Homo sapiens: one gene and its partner. The protein of the gene in region 1 interacts with the protein of each later gene in a pairwise test. Each region holds a gene or a part of one and is shown in the gene's direction. Other genes may lie near its edges.

Region 1 (8,108 bases):
CACCAGATCACACTTCCTGAGAATGCTTCCCAACTCCCTTCCCACCCTGCAGGAAGCGAGTTGCCCGTGTGTGCAAGCTGCGGCCAGAGGATCTATGATGGCCAGTACCTCCAGGCCCTGAACGCGGACTGGCACGCAGACTGCTTCAGGTAGGGTGGGGTGCCCAGGGCCTGTGTTGCCCTAAACAAGGCCTGCCAGAGAGGACAGGCTGGTCAAGGAATGGGGGAGGCCGGGATATGCCTCCTGGTGCCGTCCCCTATTGTGACTTCGTGGCCTTAATTTACCATTTATGACATGAGGTGTTTTGACTAGAAAATCCCTACAGGCCTTCCTGTTGTCATTTTATTTATCTATTTTTTTTTCTTTTTGAGACGGAGTCTCGCTCTGTCACCCAGGCTGGAGTACAGTGGTGCGATCTTGGCTCATTGCAACCTCTTCCTCCTGGGCTCACGCAGTTCTCCTGTGTCAGCCTCTGGAGTAGCTGGGATTACAGGCGTGCACCACCACGCCCAGCTAATTTTTGTATTTTTAGTAGAGACGGGTTTTGCCATGTTAGCCAGGCTGGTCTGAAACTTCTGACCTCAAGTGATCTTCCCACCTCAGCCTCCCAAAGTGCTGGGATGACAGACATAAACCACCGCTCCTGGCCTCATTTTATTTTCTTTTATGTATTTTTCTTTTTTCGAAATGGTCTTGCTCTGTTGCCCAGGCTGGAGTGCAGTGGTGCCATCTCGGCTCATTGCAACCTCCATCTCCCGGGCTAAAGTGATCCTCCTACTTCAGCCTCCCGAGTAGCTGGGATTATAGGTATACACCACAATGCTCAGCTAATTTTTTAAATTTTGTGTAAAGACAGGGTCTCACTATTGAGACCCAGGCTGGTCTTGAACTTGTGACCTCAAGCAATCCTCCTGCCTTGGCCTCCGAAAGTGCTAGGCTTACAGGCGTGAGCTAACGCCTTGGCCTCTGTTGTCATCCTAGATCTCTGAGATCTAAATCTTAGAGAGGATGGGAGAGACCTCCAATTGAGCCAGTGCCTGCAATTCAGCCCCCTGCTGGCACCCAGACAGGGGGAAGAGTTGGAAGGAATGTCCCTCCTGCCTTCTGGGTGTTCATGCTCTTGCAGGGAGGGAAGACAAACCAGGCCTTAAGGGAAACCAGGCCACCCTCAGTGTCTTCCAGGCTGCTTGCGAACATGCATAACCCAGTCACACCAGCCCCAGTGTCCAGACACACACCCACAGGTAGGAAGAAAGTAGGGTCAGGGTTGTGGCGGAGGATAAAGAGTACATGAGGACCTGAAGGTCACCCAGTAGGACCATCCTGAGAAGCCAGGAGCAGGGGTCTACCTGCCTTGAGCCAGAGCAGGGCCAGAGCAGGGGTCTCAAAGGATGTGAGATTTCCTGGGTAGAAAAGTAGAGTGGAGGTGGGGCGTGGTGGCTCACACCTATAATCCCATCACTTTTTGGGGCTGAGGTGGGCAGATCACTTGAGTTCAGGAGTTCGAGACAAGCCTGGGCAATATGGCAACACCCTGTCTCCACTGAAAATACAAAAAATTAGCCGGGCGTGGTGGCGCATGCCTGTAGTCCCAGCTACTCAAGAGGCTGAGGTGGCAGGGTTACTTGAGCCTGGGAGGTGGAGGCTGCAGTGAGCTATGATCGCACCACTGCACTCTAGCCTGGGCAATAGAGCGAGACCCAGTCTCAATTTTTAAAAAAGAAAGAAAGAAAAACAAATGGTGTGGGAGAGAATTACAGGCATAGTCACCAAACAGCAAGGTTCAGGGGAGAAAACTCCATAAAAGGGTAGAAGGTGAAGCTTCTGGGATGCCCAGCAGGGGTCAAGACATCCACCACTAGGACTTTATTTTAGGCTTCTGCCTTGGTTTATTTTTTGGTTTTTGGTTTTTTTGAGACAGTCTTGTTGTGTCGCCCAGGCTGGGGAGCAGTGGCGCGATCCCTCCTCACTGCAACCTCCGCCTCCCAGGTTCAAGCGATTCTCCTGCTTCAGCCTCCCAAGTAGCTGGGATTACAGGTGTGCACCACCACGCCCGGCTAAGTTTTGTATTTTCAGTAGAGATAGGGTTTTGCCATGTTGGCCAGGCTGGTCTCGAACTCCTGACCTCAAGTGATCTGCCCGCCTCAGCCTCCCAAAATGCTGGAATTACAGGCATGAGCCACTGCACCTGGCCTCGGTTTGTTTTTTTGTTTCTTCTTTTCTTTTTTTTTACACAGGGTCTTGCTGTGTCACCCAGGCTGGCGTGCAGTGGTGAGATCATAGCCCACTGTAGCCTCCAGCTCCAACTGGTTCAAGCGATCCTTCTGACTCAGCCTCCCAAAGTGCTGGGATTACAAGCATAAGCCACCATGCCCAGCCTGTTTTTTCTTTTTTAGGAATAACGTCTAACGTTTTCTAACATTCAGTAAGGGACAACCCCTGTTCTAAGTACTTTGCATAGTTAGATATTAGTGCTGTCTTTGTTTTGCCAGAGAGAAAATTGGGACACAGAGAGGTTAATTCTCTTGATGAAAGTCACACAGCCAGTGAGTGAAATGAACACACTCAGTGTGGCTGAAAGGAGACAGACAGCATGCCCTGGGATTCTGCATCAGGTGCTCAGAAAGAGGCCTTCGGGGGGCAAGAGGGCTCTCAACAGGCAGAGGAAACCATCTGCACAGCGGTGGGATGGTGCGGACTGCTGAGGGAACAGGAACAGTTCCCTTGGAAGGAACAGAATAAGCTGAGGGATCCAACAAGAAACAAAGTTGAGACCGATTCGTGAAGGGCCTTGAATGCCAAGATAAGGAGTTTCAGAAGTCAGGATGGGGGTGGTGGCTCATCCCCGTAATCCCAGCACTTTGGGAGGCCGAGGCAGGCAGATCACTTGACCCCAGGAGCTTGAGACCAGCCTGGCCAACGTGGTGAAACCCCCGTCTCTACTAAATATTCAAAAATTAGCCAGGCATGGTGGCACATGACTGTAATCCAAGCTACTCGGGAGGCTAAGGAAGGAGAATCACTTGAACCTGGGAGGCGGAGGCTGCAGTGAGCTGAGATCACGTCACTGCACTCCAGCCTGGGAGACAGAGCGAGACTCCATCTCAAAAAAAAAAAAAAAAAAAAATAGAAGGGAGTCGGCAGAAAGCCAGGGAGGGGCTGGGGTGACATGCTGTTGAAGAATGCCATCCCAGTGGGCCGGTGGTGGTATCTAGGCAGGGAAGGGACTGTCCCAGTAACTCAAGGGTCTGAGCTCATAGGACCTGACCTGGGACAGTGACTGAGGATGGAGAGAATTTCAGGCAGAAGGGACAGTTTTTGGTGAGTATTTGTCATATTGGCTACCATGCATTGAGCACTCTTCATGCTAATTTGTTAAATCTTCATCATAACTCTATGAGGGACTGTATGTGCCCAGTTTGCATGGGAGAAACAGAGATTCCATGCAATCAAGTGCCTCGCTGAAGGTTGTAACATCTAGAGCTGGGACTAAAACCTTCTCACTCCACATCGCCACAGAGTAGGAAAGGCAGGGGCTGGCGGTGGCACATGCCTATAATCCCAGCCCTTTGGGAGGCGGAGGCAGGTGGATCTCTTGAGCCCAGGAGTTTGAGACCAGTGTGGGCAACATAGTGAAACCTTGTCTCTACAAAAAAATTAGCTGAGCATGGTGGTGGTGCCTGTAGTCCCAGCTACTCAAGGGCGCTGACATGGGAGGGTTGCTTGAGCCTGGGAGGTGGAGGTTGCAGTGAGCTATGATCACACCACTGCAAGCCAGCCTGGGTGACAGAGTGAAATCCCATCTCAAAAAAAAGAAAGAAAGGAAGAAAGAAAAAGACAGGGGCTTCGGGGAGGGCATGGGCACTGGCGAATGGCAGGGTGGAACCTGAAGCCATCTGGTTTTCTAACCTGGGCACTGGGGAGTTGGTGGTTTGTTGACTCTGATGGAATTGGGGGTCATGTTGGGGAGGAGACATGCTCATCTGTGTTGAGCTGGAGGGGACATGGGCTATCCATGGTGGCTGTGTCCTGCCCAGAGCTAGCCATGGGAGCCTGAGTCCAGTTGGAGGTAGGAAAGTCAGAAAAAACGGCCGCCTCGGAGCTGGCCCTGAGATGGTGAGTGGGATTTGTGATAGGGCCAAGACGAATGAAGGGAAGAACTTTGGGGACCCCTGTGTCTGCGGTGAGGGGGGAGATGGAGCCTTGGGTGATGGAGAGAGGGTCAGGAGTAGAGCCACAGAAGCCACAGGAGGGAAGCCGTGTTACAGGATGGGTGTACCTGGCTTTGGAGTGGCCTGTCCCAAATCACTCACCAGGAGAGGGGTGAGTCCCCAGGTCAGGGCAGTAAAGAGGAGGCATGTTTGTGCTGTCCCTGGTGTAGTGAAACTCAAGAAGGAAGCCAGGTGCAGTGGCTCACGCCTGTAATCCCAGCACTTTGGGAGGCCAAGGCAGGCAGATCACCTGAGGTCGGGAGTTTGAGACCAGTCTGGCCAACATGGTGAAACCCCATCTCTACTAAAAATACAAAAATTAGCCGGGCCTGTTGGTGGGCGCCTGTAATCCCAGCTACTCAGGAGGCTGAGGCAGAAGAATCGCTTGAACCCGAGAGGCAGTGATTGCAGTGAGTCAAGATCGCGCCACTGCACTCTAGCCTGGGTGACAGAGCAAGACTCCATCTCGAAAAAAAAAAGTCTCAATATGGGGAAAGATCCACTAGAAGTAAGAGCCATGGCTTCTACCTCGTGGCTTGTGGGTGTGATACTCCCAACAGTCCCCAAAGCTGGTGGTCCTCACCGCGTGACAGTGAGCAGAGCAGCTCAGAGGGGGTCACTGCTCACCTGGGTGCATGGCTGACCACAGCCAGGCTGGCTCTCAGTGGGATGCCCAAGGTGCTAGACTCTGCTTAGTCTCCCTCGGGCCCTGGGCTTGAGGCATTGGGCCCGGCCCAGACCTCATTTCATGCACTGAGACCTTTGTTCCAGGGCCCCTCACCCCTCTGAAGGTGTTCGGGCAGGGGCAATGTGATAAGGCCATGAGGGGTCTGCAGCCTCCAGCCCCACTGGGGAGGTGGCCAGTGATTTCCACTTTCCTGGCCCCTCTGCATGCCCCTCCCAGTGGAACTTCCTAGGGTCCCTGAGTCAGTCACTTGCAAATAATTATGGCGTGCCCACTCTGCATTAGGCCCCTCTCACAACAACCCAGTAAGGGGGTGCTATTTATTTATTAAAGCGATTTTTTTTTTGAGTCTCGCTCTGTCGCCCAGGCTGGAGTGCGGTGGCGCAATCTCGGCTTACTGCAAGCTCTGCCTCCCGGGTTCACACCATTCTCCTGCCTCAGCCTCCCAAGTAGCTGGGACTACAGGCGCCCACCACCACACCCGGCTAATTTTTTTTTGTTTGTTTGTATTTTTAGTACAGACGAGGTTTCGCTGTGTGAGCCAGGATGGTCTCGATCTCCTGACCTCGTGATCCGCCCACCTCAGCCTCCCAAAGTGCTGGGATTACAGGCGTGAGCCACCGTGCCCGGCAATATTAAAGCGATTTTAAGGCCAAGGCTGGTAACTCACGCCTGTAATCCCAGCACTTTGGGAGGCTGAGGCAGGAGGACTGCTTGAGGCCAGGAGTTTGAGATCAACCTAGGCAACATAGTGAGACTCCATCTCTACAAAAAAATTAGCCAGGCGTGGTGGTGCGTACCTGTAGTCCCAGCTACTCAGGAGGCTGAGATGGGAGGATCATTTGAACCCAGGATGTCGAAGCTGCAGTGAGCTGTGATCACGCCACTGCACTCTGGCCTGGGCAACAGAGCGAGACACTGTCTCAAATTTTTAAAAAGCGATTTTACAAATGAGGTGCAGAGTTCAGTCACTTGCCAAAAGTCTCACAGCGCGTGAGGAGTAGAATCAGGACTCGAACCGAGGCAGCCTGGCTTCAGAGCCTACAGTGTAACCACAGCTTAGTCCCACACCTCCCAGACCAACAGGGTCCCTGCCTTCTAGTGGGCAAGACACTCAGTGAACAAATGTAGTGTCAGGTATTGGGGGACAGCACTCTCAGGAAGTGATGTTTAAGGGACAGAATTGAAGGGAGCAGTGTTTAGAGGATGTCGGGGGTAGGGCCGGTGCATGTGCAAAGGCCTTGGGGTGGGAATGTGCTTGGCACAACTGAGGACCACAAAGCCAGCGTGCGGGAGTGCAGTCAGTGGCCAGGGGTGCATAGAGCCTTGTGGGCCCCGTGGAAGGTGCCGTTGGCTGTACAGCTTTTTTTTTTTTTTTTTTTTTTTTTTTTTGAGACAGAGTCTCGCTTTTGTTGCCCAGGCTGGAGTGCAGTGGCGTGATCTCAGCTCACTGCAACCTCCGCCTCCCGGGTTCAAGCGATTCTCCTGCCTCAGCTTCCTGGTAGCTGGGACTACAGGCGCCCACCACCACACCTGGCTAATTTTTGTGTTTTTAATAGAGACGGGGTTTCACCATGTTAGCCAGGCTGGCCTCAAACTCCTGACCTCAAGCGATCTGTCTACCTCAGCCTCCCAAAGTGCTGGGGTTACAGGCATGAGCCACTGCGCACAGGCAGCTGTGCATCTTTGAATGTCATAACCTGAGCATCTGAGAGCTGCTCCTGTCCCCTGGCCCCTGCTCTTGAGGAAGTCCCACGCTGATAGGACAGACAGGGTCATAAGTGCTGTGATGGGGGCCTGCAGGCTGCTGGAGGGCTCAGCCGGGACCAGATGCTGCCCCTCTTTGTAGAGTGGGACAATTGCTGCAGGCCCATGGGACCTCTGGTATTAGCCCTGAGGGTTGTCACTCCGGGGCCTGCCCCTTTCTGTGTTCTGACCTCCCAGCCCCTTGCAGGCCCTGCCTCCCGGAAGGTTATGACCAGGCTTGGACTGGTCCAGGCTTCCCTTTGGCTCACATACTGCCTCTGCGAGGTCCCCTCCAGGAAGCCTCCTGTGCACAACCCCCAGGGCTGCCGCATCCCTGGTAGCATCTCCTTGGCAGCTGGGTGGGCTGGCCCTGGGCAAGGAGGGCTGAGCATGCTGCTGGCCTGTGGGGTTGGAGCAGCGGCGGGATGCAACCTCCCTTTCTTCAGGGGACCTTTTTGGCGAAGACAAACTGTCCATAGGAAGTCGACCTCTGTTCCCTTGGGGGCAGCAGTGGAAGAGGCAGCTGCTTTTGAGCTTGTCCCTGTCCCCAGAGAAGCCTGAGGCCTTCAGTGCCGTTGCCAGGGCCGAGGCTGAGGAGCCTACAGCGTGTGTTCAGGACTGAGGGCCAGGGACGGGCCACAGGCTCCCTGCCTGGGGTCCAAGCCTAGATCGCTCGCTCCCCACCCGCACCAAAGCCCAGGCAAAGGGTGCTTCAGCCACTTCCTGTTGCAGGCTCAGACCAAGTCCCCTGGCACCCACGCGGCTGCAGCCTCCTCCTGTGCGCTGCAGCCACGCTGGCCCCACCCTCTGCAGCCTCCAATCCTGAGCCCCTGAGGGAGGATGGGGAAGCAGCTGGTCTGGCCACCCCTGCCCTCCCTTAGACCTCCAGAGCCCCCAGTGTAGCCACAGAGGATGCTGTTGGCTTCAGCCCCAAGAAGACGCCGCTTCCTCCAGAGGGCTAAGTAAGTGGGAATCCCCCTCCCTACTTGTCCTGGGCTCCAGGCAGGGCCCCTGGTGTAAGGCCTGGGGCTGGAAGCCGACCCACCTAGGTCCAGGCTCTGGGGCAGAACTGAAACTCCTTGGTTACTGTCGGCTGCAGCCTGGGAGCAGGCCACTGCCAAAGCTGTGGGTCCTTCCAGGACAGTCTCCCCATGAGGCCGGTCCTCCACCTGCTGTTTCTTCACACCTGGTGGCCAGGGATGTGGCCCTGGGTAGAACGATGATTCTCCACTCCTGTCATTATGGAAGCCACCGCTGTCTCCCAGCCCAGCCAGCCACCTGGGCTGCAGAGCACCCCTTTCATGCCCTCCGGGTGCCTCCCCCTTCTCCTGCCCCAGCCTGGCTTTGTCCTACCCTGCTCTCAGGGAGGGGTACCCTGGAGTGGGGCCAGGGCATGGCTCTCCCCCGAGGGAGTTCCTCTCTGGCTGTCCCCAGGGCAGCTCTGCACAGCCTCAGTACCTGGCGCA
Region 2 (8,031 bases), on another chromosome or scaffold:
TTACTGTTTATTATAACTTCAGAAGTAATTTATAGTTCTGAACCTATAGTATCTTTTACCCTGTTCCCAAGCAAAGACTGGTGACTTTATCTGAAAATGATTCCTCTTCCCATGACCTAAAACACTGTGAGGAAAAATCATTCAAGTGGCATGCCAAGTCCCTATGAAGGAAGGGCTGCTATCAAACCTACCTTTTTTGAGCAAACTGAGACTAAACTTCTCTCTTTTCAAAATTGTGTTATCTTCCTTAATCCTATTTTCATAATTTTTCCTTTTGCCAGTTTTTCACATTATCTTTGATATGTGAGCAACATTTATTATTTACATTAGAGTATACCTTTTAGTAATAAAATGACTTGAAATCATATTATTTTTAAAAGCCCTTTGCTTCTTTCATTACTTATAATCTCCTCTAAAACAACCTCTGCATGTTTTTTTTAAATAAAGCACTTTCTGTCAAATAATGGACTTTTTTCTAAACAGAAATTATTTTCTATTAATTTGCAAACTGATGATTTCACTTTTTTTTACTTTTTTTTCGATTATCAGAGTACTTAGTAAATGTTATATAGTTTAGTTCTAAGATAGTTCCAGGGATTAAAAGGTTAAGAGGAAAACACAAATCACCAAATTTCTGATTTATGTTTTTATCTCCTGAACAATATTTTCTCACTCATATTCCTCTATCTTATCACTTAGCTAAAGACAGCCTAAATTTCCCAATTTTCTGTCCAAAATATTTGTGATTTACTTGTATATAAGCCTTCTCATTTGCCATGTGCTGTGATCTTACAAGTTAGATGTTACTATACCTACCATTTATTCAGCTGGATTGCTGAACACAGTTCTGGATTCATAGAATTAAGAATATCTTGTTAGTGCCCAGGATTTCCACGTTTTGTGTTTTATTGGCCCTTTTCTTTATTCAGCCCCTTAATCTATTTTCAGTCTTCTGGCACGTAATTTTTTTCACAGTTATTATTCTTCTATTAACAAATTATTTTTATCTTTCCTAGTACATTTTCACTTAGTTCTCTTGCCCTTAAATATCTTTCACATGCATTTTAGGATATTCTTTTCAAATATTTGTAGGACAACTTTGAATCAAAATAAATTATGTTCCTTCTCCAATTTGAAGCATTGAGGATAAATGACCATTTGAGGTCTAACTGATCTTTTCCTGCCAGAAGAGTTATCTTACGTTCTGCTATATTTGTATTTGGGCCAGTTGATTGTAGGTTGTCCAACATTTTTTAATATTGGGAAAATTATGATAAAATGCTTTAAAAATTAATATGCCAGATTAAAATAACTGAATAGTTTACTATTTCATTCAAGCATGTTTAAAACAAATAATTTCCTTTCACCAGTTTTTCTTAGTAAACTCCTGAAAAAGTAGGAAAGGTGGAAAGTATATATCATTTTTATAAATTTTAAATTGTACATCAGACTTTTAAAATCTGTAATATACAAGCAAGCAAAATTATTTTAAATGACTTAATTGTATGCTAATACTCATCTGATAATAAATGCTTCTTAAAGTTGACATTTAACTGCTATCACAAAGTTTTATATGTAGAAAAGTGGGGTCCTTTTGAATAAAAGATCATTCAACTAAAAATATTAAAATTTATTTCACTGGATGGTAATGTAACCTTAAAAGCATCATAATAGGTAAAGTCTAATATTAGTTCCCTTAACAAAATCCTAACTGTATACCAGAATTAGGTCACTGAAAGAACTTGATTTGAATTACGTTTAGACAAAAATGATTTAATTGTAAATTCTTAAAACTTTCTAAATGCATAATTGGCAAAAAAAAAAACCCACTGTTACCAGTGTAGGAAGTTACAAGAAGGCACATACTGAATGCTGAAGTATACATATGCTATTTCTCTTAAACCTCAGAGCAACCATATGAGCATTGTAATTAATATTCCCATTTTACAGATGAGGAAACTGAAGCTAAGAGAAGCTAAGTAATATGCCCAAGGTCCACATCTAGTAACAGACAAAGCTGGGATTTCAGTCTATGTCTGCCTCTCTCCACATCTCTTTCATCCATACCACACTGCCTACATGCCATATGACAGGATGTGTAATGGGCTAACGTTTATTTAAAAAGTTCAGGCCAGGTGCAGTGGCTTATGCCTATAATCCCCGCACTTTGGGAGGCCGAGCCGGGTGGATCATGAGGTCAGACGTTCAACACCAGCCTGGCCAAGATGGTGAAACCCCGTCTCTATTAAAAATATTTTTTAAAAATTAACTGAGCGTGGTGGTGGGCGCCTGTAGTCCCAGCTACTCAGGAGGCTAAGGCAGGAGAATCTCTTGAACCCGAGAGGTGGAGGTTGCAGTGAGCTGAGATCGCGCCACTGCACTGCAGCCTAGGCGACAGAGCAAGACTGCCTCAAAAAAAAAACATAAAAATTCAGTCACTATACTCTGGCACAATTTTCATTTGTATATGAGCCAAACCACATACCTTAATGATTTGGGAAGTTAGGCAAATATGAGATATGTAGACATATCTATGCTGATTGTTGCTTGAGAAATAATTACTAATTCTAGACAAAACTCAATCCTGTATCTTCCATCATGAATCTTAAAATCATTTCACTTCACTCCTAACATTTCTTACATTGCAGAACTAATGGTAAAGTAAATTTTACGGAAAAAGTTAAGATAGCTTTGGGAACAGAGACCTTTCCCTAAATTGATTCCATAGCAGATTTGGGGGAATTAACAAAGAATTTCAGTCTCATCAATCCTTTGAATCCATCTTCAAAACTTCTGCTTTTAATAACTTTAGAAAATTTACTAATCTATAGAACTAATTGAGTAGGATATAGGAAGGATACAAGGATATAATGTCCTTTTTATAAAAGTTTAGTATAGCTTCTTTACATGTATCCACTTGTTCCAGAAAATGTGCATTGGTTCTGAATGTGAAAATATTTAAAGAGAGAAAGGAACACTCAAGTAAGTGTGGGCTTCAGTGGGAATTATCACAAAACATTGGCAAGTATTTTTATTTAAATTATTTTCAAATTTGACTTCTACAGCCAAGTGGAATTGGTAGGCTGTAGCTGTTACACTGAAATTTCTAGTCTTTGTAAGTGCCTCCTGAAAGTCATTTAAAATGGAAAAATATTTCAATGAGCTTTTCCTTTTTTCATATTTATGGACATGAATATTTTATTGGAGATCATTAACTCCTAGAATTTGAGATTATATTTCCATACAACATTTTATAAAGTTATGTTGAACTTACTACCTGTTATGTGCAGGTTATTATGTAACTATTCACAGATTGCTTCATATATTGCTTTATCTTCCCATCTAACTTCTTAAAGTTAAAATCCGGACACACATGTTGATTATCTAGACCAGTCATTCTGGAAATTGTAACACTCCCACATAAACCCCAGGAGACTTTTTCAGAATGCAATGTTTCTAAATGTACTGTTACTGGCAGTTTACTCTCCAGCATATAAGGTTGCATTTTAACTTTTAGATTATGAACTGTGCAAACTTTACCCAAAACTATCTTGCATGATTCCCTCCTAAATATATTCCTTGATTAAGTAAATCTGGCAAATCACTGTTTGAGCTAGTTACATAAAATTTGTTATCAAGAGAAGGCTTTTCTACAAGTTTCCAGATTAACATAAAGAAAAGAGGGAATCACAGGGCATTTAAGTGCACCTTCCCATTACTTTCCTTAAATCACCTCATAGTTAGGCTGGGCGCGGTGGCTCACGCCTGTAATCCCAGCACTTTGGGAGGCCGAGACGGTGGATCACGAGGTCAGGGGACTGAGATCATCCTGGCTAACACGATGAAACCTCATCTCTACTAAAAATACAAATAATTAGCCAGGCATGGTGGCACGCGCCTGTAGTCCCAGCTACTCGGGAGGCAGAGACAGGAGAATCGTTTGCACCCGGGAGGCGGAGGTTGTTGCAGTGAGCCGAGATCGCGCCAATGCACTCCAGCCTGGGCTACAGAGTGAGACTCCATCTCAAAAAAAAACAAAAAAAATCACCTCATAGTTTATGTCTGACTTACTCCAAACCTCAGTTATCTGATTTGTAGTCTGTGTCAGGAAAGTTTTCTTCATATCTATTCTGTCTCCCTCCTCTTTGATTTTAAATTTTTTTCTTTTACCCAGTAGGACAAAAAAGAGCAGTTGGTCATCATCCCCAATATTCTTAGTCTTCAGTATGCTTCAGGCCTCTCAATGAACACTTAAGTCTCAATTCTTCAGACAAAATTGCTTAAGCTCTTCTCCTCAGTCCTATTTTAATGACTTTATATTTAAGAATATAGAATTATATTTTCTTTTATATTCAAATTCATTACTCCAGTTAAGTAATAGTTTGATAGTTTGATAGAATCGAGAGTTAAGATGTTTCTATTTGAAAGTGGATTCAACCATCAGACCACCAGCAAATCGGCACTTAATTTTTGTGTTATCTAACATTTTCTATTGTGGAATTTTATGATTTTATATTCTCATTAGTTATAACTAAAAAGCCATGCACACAGAATTGTATATCATTTTGCCATTAAAATTTTTTAACATATTGCAGCAAGCTTAGTTTTATGATTGAGCCACAACCTTTTACATATTTTTTGTATGAAATATTAAACACTAAATGCAAGATTAACTTTCAAAAGCAAACCCTACATTAATCAGGTATTATCTATGGACATTTTTGTAGACCACTTTTGAAATACTTATTATTTTGCAACATAGACTGGACTATACAACTTTCATTTAACTTTTAGGTGACTGATTTAAGTTGAGTGTGCATATAGAGAAAAACCTAGAAATTTATCTCATGGCAGATACATTTGAAAGTACTTCAGAAGAATTTATGCTGTATATTAAAACTAGGCTCAAAATAAATCTATCGTATCTTTAAAAGTCCAATTCTGTTATTACTGTGATGTTTGTAGTGTTACTATTAAACATTGTGAACATACACATTTTTAAAACAACTTGAAACCCATTTTAAAATCTGGGTAAGAGAGAAGGAATCTTCAGAACAAAATCACATCATTAGGGTGTCCAGTTTATGATTGAATTTTTAAGCAAATTACTGTATTTGAAACTACAACTTGATTTGGTTTTCAGTTTTAAAAGGCAACATGTGGGTTTTATCCATTTTATTTATACCTTTAGATTTCAGAAACATCTTCATGTTTTAGATGCATTCTACAGACATCATGTTACTTAAAAACTCAGGGCCCCTTTCATCCCTTTGTACACTGAAAAAGTTCAATTGTTAGCAAGTAAGCAATTAGATCCAGTTGAATATTTAAAGTGTTTGTTGCACAGTTCATTTAATGTTTCATCTTATTTGACTTTTTCACATAGATATAATATCAGATTTCATTAATTATAAAAAGTTGCCCAGTTCTGTAATTACTGAACAGAGGGAATGACTCAACTAATTGGCTACATGTTGCAACAAATTTAGGCCTTTAGAGTTGAAGCACTGACTTAAAACGACTTACATTTCTGTTCTTTGGTCAAATGACCATACATGATATGGGACAAATTGTTTCATTTTGTTTGTTTTTTAATAAGGGAACTTGGTAAAGTAGTTCCTGTCAGATAGGATTTTCTCAAGAGACAATTTAACGTTATAAAGCCTTCTAAAAGTGAACTAAATATTTTATAACTTTAGTAATAGCTTGGATGGTTTTGAGAAAATAACCTGTATTTATCACATTGTCAAACAGAATTTTTCTTTGAATCAGACAAGTTCAAGCTCTAAATTGATGTGCTATATACTTAAAATCCTAGGAAGTTATCTGTAACCAGTCTCTTGTCTCAGGCTCTTCACCTTGTTACCAATCCTCGTAAGTATGTAAAGGAAACATATTTTTAAAGAAGCTTAACAGTAAGAAAAAATTACTAAAAGATGCAATTCAAAGATAGGTCCCAGTTTAACACTGAATTGCTTGACTTCTGTGGCTTTTCTTTTTCTGGCCACATTTATTTATTTAAGCAATTTTTGTATGCCTTGTTATTTCATTTCCATAGAGATTATATTGTATCAGTGTTTATGTAAGCTGGAATCATCCTCAGTTTTTTGCTGATAATTTTTCAAATAAAGATACATGGATAATTGTAAAATACACTAACTCTTAGGGTGTTGTAGTAGCTGAAACATGGAGATGCGTAGCTGTCATGCTTTTTCTGAATGGACAGGAGAAACATAAGCTACGGAGTATTCACTTCTGAGGATGCTTTTCCGGAAAAAGAAAGGCTAGAAAATACTCGCACTTCCTCAGAACCCTCTTTCTTGTTAACGGGTATCTTTTGTTGGTGTGTTTTGCTCTTACATTACAGATAGACTATCATATATGACTTTATGAATAATTTCAGTTATTTTGCTTTTGTATAAGCTGTCTGAAGCCTTGCTATGCTGTATAAGTTGTGTTTGATGGATCAGTGTGAGTATAAAATAAAGCAAATCACTTTTCTTTTGTATTATCTATGGATGCCACTATGAAAGCTGACATTAAGCCACTAAAGAGTTTTCTATGAATAAGTGTAAGTAAATGCTTTGATATATATAAACCTAAATAAAAAGATTGTATTGATACAGAGACATTGGAGAAGGAGATTTTAAGGCAGTTCTTTAGGTTTAAAAAGGCTTGCTGTAAAATGGTGCGTTATTCCGTTTATTAAAGATCATATTAATGACAATAGTAATTGTGTTTTTTTATTTTAAGAGGTCACCAGAAATTGTTAGTATGATAATTAGGGAGTTTGCACTAGAATAGTAAATGTTCTATCTAATATGACTTTCATAACTCAGTATGATACATCAAAAAATAAAAAATAAAAAAAAATAAATAGGCCGGGCGTGGTGGCTCACGCCTGTAATCCCAGCACTTTGGGAGGCCGAGGTGGGTGGATCACGAGGTCAGGAGATCGAGACCATCCTGGCTAGCACGGTGAAACCCCGTCTCTACTAAAAATACAAAAAATTAGCCGGGCGCGGTGGCGGGCGCCTGTAGTCCCAGCTACTCGGGAGGCTGAGGCAGGAGAATGGCGTGAACCCGGGAGGCGGAGCTTGCAGTGAGCCGAGATCGCGCCACTGCACTCCAGCCTGGGCGACAGAGCGAGACTACGTCTCAAAAAAAAAAAAAACTAAATTTAGTATAATAGTTGCTATTTTCTGACCATGTATTATATGCCAGGCACTGTGTTAGTTATTTTACATACATTGTTGATAATTCTCACAACAATCCTACATAATATGTATTACTATCCCCCTTTTATAAATGAAGAAACTGAAAGAGAAATTAAATACTCTGCCCAGTCACAGAACTGGCAAGTGAGATTGTAACGCATTTTACGTTTTGCTTTGAACTGCAATTTTCAAGCTCTCCTTGTGGCAAGAGAAACTCAAAAATAAAAATAAAACTGGCCGGGCGTGGTGGCTCACGCCTATAATCCCAGCACTTTGGGAGGCCGAGGCAGGTGGATAACGTGAGGTCAGGAGTTCGAGACCAGCTTGACCAACATGGAGAAACCCCGTCTCTACTAAAAATACAAAATTAGCTGGGTGTGGTGGTGCATGCCTGTAATCCCAGCTACTCGGGAGGCTGAGGCAGAAGGAGAATCGCTTGAATCCGGGAAGCAGAGGTTGTGGTGAGCTGATATCGCACCATTGCACTCCAGCCTGGGCAACAAGAGTGAAACTCCGTCTAAAAAATAAACAAATAATAAAAACAGTTCAGTAGTTAGAGTAACCAGGAATATTCATGGAGTAATTTAAAGGTGCAGAAAGCTATCAGGTACCAAAACAGCTATTTTTATTGGCCTAATATTGTGTTTGTGCTTCACATCATCAAATAATCTTTTGGGTTGGATCTAGTATTTTAAATAGAAGGCCTTGTTAAAGCAGAATATGAGTTTGTGAAGGCACACATTGTTTGTCTCCAGATTAATTCAATGTGTTAGCGAAGTGTCCTGGAGCAGGATCTCGTGTCAATCCATGGGAC

What was found. The genes of interacting proteins can lie anywhere in the genome.
Region 2: the proteins of LIMK1 (region 1) and BMPR2 interact in a two-hybrid assay, tested with the Homo sapiens proteins (one study listed by BioGRID).

The regions. Positions count from the first base shown.
Region 1 is NC_000007.14:74,085,696-74,093,803, forward strand, and holds part of LIMK1 (LIM domain kinase 1), read left to right. Parts: intron 1-52; coding exon 53-149; intron 150-7,521; exon of another isoform or gene 7,522-7,554; coding exon of another isoform or gene 7,555-7,604; intron 7,605-8,108. UniProt on the Homo sapiens protein: Serine/threonine-protein kinase that plays an essential role in the regulation of actin filament dynamics. Acts downstream of several Rho family GTPase signal transduction pathways.
Region 2 is NC_000002.12:202,561,023-202,569,053, forward strand, and holds the end of BMPR2 (bone morphogenetic protein receptor type-2 precursor), read left to right. Parts: 3' UTR 1-6,727; downstream 6,728-8,031. UniProt on the Homo sapiens protein: On ligand binding, forms a receptor complex consisting of two type II and two type I transmembrane serine/threonine kinases.